Regions from separate parts of the Homo sapiens genome. Here region 2 is reported to be linked to region 1. The links are microRNA targets in miRTarBase. Many come from high-throughput screens and were not tested one by one. Region 1 holds a microRNA gene; the other region holds the end of a gene's coding sequence.

What was found. Region 1 holds the annotated microRNA hsa-miR-6759-3p (UGACCUUUGCCUCUCCCCUCAG, at 1,286-1,307, shown strand). A microRNA usually pairs through its seed, bases 2 to 8, with sites in the 3' UTR of a target mRNA and lowers its output. Matches are read on the target gene's strand: a 7mer-m8 pairs with bases 2 to 8, a 7mer-A1 pairs with bases 2 to 7 and ends in A, and an 8mer does both.
Region 2: miRTarBase lists KLHL4 as a target of hsa-miR-6759-3p. Seed matches in the 3' UTR shown: 8mer at 3,782-3,789.

The regions. Positions count from the first base shown.
Region 1 is chr12:57,745,749-57,749,924 of GRCh38, reverse strand. MIR6759 (microRNA 6759) reads left to right here and starts at 1,243; the gene lies at 1,243-1,307. TSPAN31 (tetraspanin 31) reads right to left here. Exons shown (of 6, transcript NM_005981.5): 2 at 4,013-4,176; 3 at 3,669-3,749; 4 at 3,205-3,336; 5 at 2,794-2,907; 6 at 1-2,709. The coding sequence ends at 2,635. It overlaps CDK4 (cyclin dependent kinase 4), which reads left to right. Exons shown (of 8, transcript NM_000075.4): 6 at 421-471; 7 at 608-743; 8 at 1,308-2,198. The coding sequence ends at 1,400. RefSeq lists an enhancer at 4,076-4,155.
Region 2 is chrX:87,665,830-87,669,829 of GRCh38, forward strand. It overlaps KLHL4 (kelch like family member 4), which reads left to right. Exons shown (of 11, transcript NM_019117.5): 11 at 646-4,000. The coding sequence ends at 705. Among named protein-coding and RNA genes, the nearest start is that of KLHL4, 150 kb to the left of the region's middle.

The sequences.
Region 1 (4,176 bases):
CCCAGATTCAAGCAATTCTCTTGACTCAGCCTCCCAAGTAGCTGGGACCACAGGTGCACGCCACCATGCTCAGCTAATTTTTGTACTTTTAGTAATGACAGGGTTTCACCATGTTGGCCAGGATGGTCTCGATCTCTTGACCTCATGATCCACCCACATCAGACTCCCAAAGTGCTAGGATTACAGGCGTGAGCCGCTGCACCTGGCATTTCTTTTTTTTTAAAAAAAGAGACAAGGTCTTGCTTGCCCAGGCTGATCTAGAACTCCTGGGCTCAAGCAGTCCTCTCACCTCAGCATCCCAAAGTGCTGGAATTGTTGGCCTTTATTCCCTATACTTCCTATTTTGAGCCACTAAGCAGTAACCATTCAACTAAGATATCTTTGAAAATGACTGCTACCTTATATCCCTTCTCACCTTAGGCCTCTCTTCTGTGGAAACTCTGAAGCCGACCAGTTGGGCAAAATCTTTGAGTAAGTGACCAACATGGGAGAAAAAGATTTTCTATTCTGAGTCCTCTTTCTGCTGAACCCAGGATGGCAACTGGCTCTGCCCATGGGGATGGGAACTGGAGGACCCTCCTGACCAGAGTTCTCCTGTCCCCCACAGCCTGATTGGGCTGCCTCCAGAGGATGACTGGCCTCGAGATGTATCCCTGCCCCGTGGAGCCTTTCCCCCCAGAGGGCCCCGCCCAGTGCAGTCGGTGGTACCTGAGATGGAGGAGTCGGGAGCACAGCTGCTGCTGGTACTGGAGATGGCTGTGGGCACAGGGAAAGAAATAGAGACTGGGGAAAGAAATAGAGCAGTATGCAGGGCCCTGGCCACTGTGGTTAATGAAACTTGGTTGGTAGATGGGCTGTAGTTTTTATTACAGCTGCAAATAGCCACCCACAGAGAAGGATATAGAAGAGAACCCATCCTGGCTGGGCACGGTGGCTCACGCCTGTAATCCCAGCACTTTGGGAGGCCAAGGTGGGCGTATCACCTGAGGTCAGGAGTTCGAGACCAGCCTGGCCAACATGGTGAAACCTCGTCTCTACTAAAAGTACAAAAATAAGCCGGGGGTGGTGGCACACGCCTGTAATCTCAGCTACTTGGGAGGCTGAGATAGGAGAATCACTTCAACTCAGGAGGCGGAGGTTGCAGTGAGCTGAGATCATACCATTGCACTCCAGCCTGGGTGATAGAGCGAGACTCCGTCTCAAAAAAAAAAAAAAAGAAAAAAGAAGAAAGCTCATCCCAGGTATTGTTGTGGGTGGGCAGAAGTCTGTTTTCTTCATGGTTTTCTGACCTTTGCCTCTCCCCTCAGGAAATGCTGACTTTTAACCCACACAAGCGAATCTCTGCCTTTCGAGCTCTGCAGCACTCTTATCTACATAAGGATGAAGGTAATCCGGAGTGAGCAATGGAGTGGCTGCCATGGAAGGAAGAAAAGCTGCCATTTCCCTTCTGGACACTGAGAGGGCAATCTTTGCCTTTATCTCTGAGGCTATGGAGGGTCCTCCTCCATCTTTCTACAGAGATTACTTTGCTGCCTTAATGACATTCCCCTCCCACCTCTCCTTTTGAGGCTTCTCCTTCTCCTTCCCATTTCTCTACACTAAGGGGTATGTTCCCTCTTGTCCCTTTCCCTACCTTTATATTTGGGGTCCTTTTTTATACAGGAAAAACAAAACAAAGAAATAATGGTCTTTTTTTTTTTTTTAATGTTTCTTCCTCTGTTTGGCTTTGCCATTGTGCGATTTGGAAAAACCACTTGGAAGAAGGGACTTTCCTGCAAAACCTTAAAGACTGGTTAAATTACAGGGCCTAGGAAGTCAGTGGAGCCCCTTGACTGACAAAGCTTAGAAAGGAACTGAAATTGCTTCTTTGAATATGGATTTTAGGCGGGGCGTGGTGGCTCACGCCTATAATCCCAGCACGTTGGGAGGCCAACGCGGGTGGATCACCTGAGGTCAGGAGTTCGAGACCAGCCTGACTAACATGGTGAAACCCTGTCTCTACTAAAAATACAAAATTAGTCAGGCGTGGTGGTGCACACCTGTAATCCCAGCTACTTGGGAGACTGAGGCAGGAGGATCGCTTGAACCCGGGAGGCAGAGGTTGCGGTGAGCCGAGATCATGCCATTGCACTCCAGCCTGGGCAACAGAGCAAGACTCTGTGTCAAAAAAAAAAAAAGAATATAGATTTTTAAATGGCTTTTACTTTTATATTCGCTAAACTTTCTCAAACTGGATCCTGCTTATTACAGGAAAGAGTTCTTGGTTGTTTTCTCCTTGGCCCTATCCCTGATTTACCCTTAGAGCCACACCAGGGTATGTTGAGGTGATCCAGTATATGGACAGAGGAAGGGAAACAGCTAAGAATGACTCCAGCCCCCATCCTATGCACTCACAGAAGCTTCCCATATCCTCTTGGAGAGAGAGGAAGAAAGTTTTTCCTTTTATTCCTTATAGTCTGGCTCCCACTAAAATATGTCAAGGCATAAAGTCTTGCTATTCCATCAATTTTAGAGGATGTGACAAGGGGCCTTTCCTTTTTCTCAAACCAAAACGGTTACAGACCCTAGATATTCCCTAAGGGAGGAAGAGAAAGCTTAGAGAGAGCAGAAGAAAAGTCAGAAGGATCCAAAGTCTCATAGAAAGGCACTGGGGTTGGCTCTAGGATCCTTCTGATTCCGAAATCTCATTGCTAGCCAAACACCAAGGATCTGTAGGAACAAAGGGAGAGAGATAAGTATCAATTAATTCTCAGTCTCAAAAAGGATGTGTGTGAGGGAACTGGAGAATGTTACCTCTGTAAAGCTAAAGAAGAGTCCAACACCCCCTAGGATTTTCAGGGCTTCGTCTGAATGCTTAAGAAACTTTTCTCCACACATCTGGCATGTGGGGCTCTGGCTCTTGCAGATCTGAGGATAAAACGTGAAGAATGCAAAGTTGTGAATGTAAAGTTGCTAGTGACTAATACCTATGCCGAATGTCCCTAGAAACTTTACTGTTATCTGACCAGTGTCCTACAAACTAAAATCCTACTTGGCTAATTCCCCAGCCTCTATCCACCCCCACCTCCCACCAACACAGCCCCAATACAAGAGGGCTTGTAGAGAGAGAAACAATGACATTCAAACTAAATTTGCCAACTTGGGCATTGTCCTTACCCAGTTTCCTACCTCCCCTGGCTGCTGCACCACCCCCAACACACTCACTGCAGTGCAGAAATCATAATCTTGTTGATACAGGGTTGTGAGGTTGAATAAGCCACAACAATCAAAACTTCTTTCCAGTTCATCCCGAGTCTTGTTGCTCATGACCCACCAAGAAGCATTGATGACATCTGTCTGAAAGATATGGGTAGAGGGAAATTAAGTCTCCCTACATCCTGTTATCAGTTCAAGTGCCTCAATTTCCCTAGCCCAGCAAAGGAAGTCAAACAGAAGCATAACGGTGTGCAACAATTATAGACACGATAAATATCTACCTTTTGAGGTTCTCTAGATCATCCTCATGGAAAATTAACCAGACATCCCAGAGGAAGCAAATAGCCCAAGAGGCCAGAAGCAGTGCACCTAAGGATGATCTTTGGGTAGTTGGGGCCAGACTAAGGAAGGAGTTCGAGGTTAAGAGGAAAATTTTAAAAAGCAAGTAAGTACTTGAAAGGGTACTGTCTTACCTGTTTGCTTCGGTTAATAGCCAGACATGAGCAAGAGATTACAAATTGGAAGATGAAGACCAAACCAAGGATGATCATGTACTGAGAGGAAAGGTTATGGAAAAAAGTCCTAGATTCCTTTATGTTTCATCTATAATAACTGTCTGGTCTCATCTGTTCATAGAACTTACACCACCATGTCAAATTGAAAGCAATAAAATCAGCTCTTGTTTCGTAGATTATGGGACAGGGCAGGGCAAGGAGACGTGTCCAAGATCCCTGAGGTCCCCTACCCTTCTAACATCTTCCTTAGATGACAGCCCTCCCAAGCCCCCGGTTGCCCCCATCACTTCAGGTCAGGATACAAAGAACAGCAGGACTTGGTGGTGGTTGACAGCACCCACCAGTCCAGCCACTGCAATAAGGAGAAGGAAGACTCCCACAGCAATGACTCCGCCGATGATGTGGATGCTGGACACCAGACCCAGGCCCTTGCCCCAAGCAGCCACTCCAATGAGCAACAAGCTCA
Region 2 (4,000 bases), not on the chromosome of region 1:
AGATTTTAATCTCTCTCCTCCAATAATCTGATTCATTAAGACTCAGAAACCCTCAAATGCTACAATGTAGGTAGCTGCTGTTTTGTCAATGCTTAGGACCAACCAGAAATCGAAGGAAAAAAAATATCATGCAAGGTGTTAGGACAAATACAATAATCAAGATGTTTGACCAGCTTACGGGATTTATTTTTCTGAAGATTGTAGACAAGTAGCTAAGAGTCCTGGATTATATTTTTGGCTGTGTCACTGTTTCATCGTGTGATCTTGAAAAGAGTGAAAGAGAACTAACAGATGGTGGGATTATAACTACTAAGTGCAAATTGTCATTCATTATTTCACTCAATCATCACAAAAACCTTGACGTGTTAGTATAATTTGGTGTAATTTTTCAAGTGAGAATATTATCAGAGAGATGAAATTTACTTAAGATCACCTGATCCTCAAACTCAGGTTTTTACCATTCTAAAGGCTATGTTTTTTCCAGCACACTACACTGTTTTCTAGGCTGCAGATTATCTCATCTTTAGACAAGGTGATGTTAGACCAAATTAAGTAAGGACTTCTTCAACTATATTGAATATAATATTTTATATTATGCTGAAATCAGAGTTCCAACAGTGTTTTGTTTCTTATTTTGTGTTTTAGGAAGTTCCTGTTAACATTGGAAGAGCTGGTGCATGTGTTGTAGTGGTGAAGCTACCCTAAAGCTATCTATCTTTATCAAATGGAATGAAACTAGATAATTTCAAGAAACTGAGTAGGACAAAGGGAGAAAGAAATACATGTTCTTTTTCCTGCAATTAATAATCAGACTGGAAAATTGTTGTATCATTTTAATTTGTAGTTACAATTGCTTTCATTCGTGAAGCCGAAACGTTTTTAAACATGAATTACATATGAATTATTAAGCATATGTGCTTTCGCAGCTGATAATATAAAAGGAAATCCCACAGTCTAGATATAGCCCCATTACTACAAAATGCTAAAATATTTAATGAAAATTGATGGTGGCCACAGTGTGCAGGTTATAAAAGCATTAATACATTTCAAGGTAAGAGCCTTAAAAGTTAAAAACATTTTCAGTTTTTTTTTAAAAAACGTACTCTTATTATCTGGAACATAGAAATATAAAAGGTAACATCTAAAGCTTAGAATAGTGTGATTTTTAGTAAGCCATTATTCTCCTATTCAAATAATATCCCAAAGAGCTAAACAATTCCTTACATTTACCAAGAGGAAAGCTTTTACTGTGTTGAAGCTAAAAAAATAATGGCTCTTTGACAAAACTTGTTATGTTGATCGCGGTATGTCAAAATTTTTACAGGTTTGCTCATCTGCCAGAGCACACATATAAATTTGGTATTTCTTAACATATTATCTTGTTAGATTTGTTACCAGTAAAATATTACTGTAATTTCATATACACAGTCTATACAATGAAATAATGAATATTTATCATATTGATACAAACTGTGACCTCAGCTTCAGAGTGTCAGGGCCTCACTTGTATAGAATGTAATGTTCTCCTCAAACATTTATGTTAACTCTATAAACAAATATCGTTAAGTTAAACAAGTTTTCAAAAACAAAACAATTTTTAAAGTACCTTAAAATTGAGGATGTTACTCAGTGTTAACACATGGGAACACCAAAATATTCAATAAGCCTGGTCAATTCTATAGTTATCTTTTTTGTACCAACACATGCTTTTCTGTTACTGTTATATTATCCAGTAGAAAATGTTAGGATATGTGTGCTATATAAAAAAAAAAAAAGACTTGTTAAGTTTTAAAATAACAAAAATGGCTAGTTGAATAGTATTTTATGTGTAATTCTTCCATTTATTCTGTTTAATTATACAACTAAGATGAAATATTGAAAAACCCTTTGTGAAAGTAACTTTTCAAGTAAATGCACAACTTTAGAATTTCTACAAATAAGTTCTTTTAAACAGTCTTTTTATTGTGGATTGTGAAATCAAAATCTGGAGAAATGCTTATAAAATATACTACTAGCTTTTAAGTTTTAAGAAAGAAGAACGTAAGTTGTACAAAGATATTTGTACTTTGACAAACTGAATTTAAATAAACTTTATTTCCTCTCACTATAGTGTGGCTTTAGAATATATCAAGTACAACCTGAATGGACTTTTTGATTTTACATTTCCTATATCACTAAAATACTTAAACACAAAAATAAAATTCCACTCCTTTATTTCTTCTTACACCTGCCATTGTCTCTAATTCTAAAGAGAGAGCTATAGATTTCTGCAGTTCTAGAGGTGAAGATAGAGACATAGAGAGGCTGTGAAACACACATACAGCCCTGTTAGGTCTTTTGAATTCACACCTTATTGAAATCAGTGTAGAAGTAGAGTTACCTAAACCTTTATCGCCAATGCACAGCTTGGCCTGTTAAGTTAAATGTGGGTGTCAACCAGTGGAAAAGATCAAAGGACCTTTTGCAGCCTAGCTTGCCAATCTTCCAGTAACAACGAGGTGCTACCAATAGGCAGACTGTGTCTAGAGTCATGCATGGACAAGAGGAAAGTGAAAGTTGAATACTCTCTTCTCAATGGCATAGCTGGACTTGATTAAGTATTGACTCATAGAAGAGACATGTATGTTTCCCGGGGCTACCCCTTCATAGCTGCATTTAAAAATGGTGTTCAGGCCACTATGGCTGCTGTGGTTTGAATATTTTTTTCCCTCGAAAACTCATGTTGAAACTTAACTCCTAATGTAGCAGTACTGAGAGGCAGGGCCCTTAAGAGGTGATTGGGCCATGAGGTCTGTGCCCTCCTGAATGGATTAATCCATTCATGGATTAATGGATTATTATGAGTGGGGGACTGGTGACTTTATATGAAAAGGAAGGAAGAGTGACCTAAGCTAGCATGCTCAGGGTGCACCGTATGTCCCCTGGTCATGTGATGCTATGTGTTACCTTGGGACTTACCTGACAGCTCTTACCAACAAGAAGGCCATCCCAGATATGGCCTCTCAACCTCAGACTTCTCAGCCTGCCTAACTGTAAGAAATTAATTCTTTTTCTTTATAAATTACCCAGGTTCTGTTTTAAGCCTCAGAAAATGAACTAAGACAATGCCCTAGATGAGCTGCCAAAATCTGAGCAGATATGAGCCATCAGAATAGAGACCTGCAGAGGCCCAGGGCACTCAAACATAACTGTGCTTGTCTCAGTCAAACTTAATTGGGAAAAGGAGGAGTAAGAGCAGGCCCTTTCTGACATGCTTTAGCAGAGATAACTTATCAGGGCTAGTTTAAACAAATGTGTATAGGAAAGGATGTTATTTATATATTCTTACAAGAGTGTAAGGGCTCACACATTTACTGTACTCAGATCTGAAAGACAATGTTGCTTCTTGATTTTTTTCTATAATCACTATGACCGTGTTCACGATTCCCTACTCTGCAACTCTCAGCATGCATCATGATGATTCTCTAACACTGTCTGTCACCTTCCTGTATTTCCACAGAGCATGCAAGAACTTCTACAAAACTTCTATACCACACAGAAGCTGAAAGAGACTCTGGGGCACTAAATTCAGATCCTTTCTCCACACAGCAATGACATTTATCAATCTGACTCAGGTGTGGCTGTTGCCCCTTTTTGATATGGAGGGAACACTGAAAGACAGTTTCCTTCTGGAGTTCCAAATGCAATATAGAAAAAAAAACCCTGTGACTCTGGATTTTATTTTAAGTTCTCTAACAAGACTCCTACCTTGAGATCTTAGTCTAGGTAAAGAAAAAAAAAAAAAGGTCATGAAACACAAATGTCCTCAACTGTCATCATTCTATGTTTACTTTCTCCCAATCACATCACCTGAGGTAGAAGAGATTTTTCAGTTGCTATTTCTCTTCGTAATGAATTTTCTTTACATCCTGTCCACACTGCTGGAGATACTAAGTCCCAACCTAAATGATGGAAGGAGCATCTCCCCTCTTGTCTGTGGAAGATATCACATGAACTACCT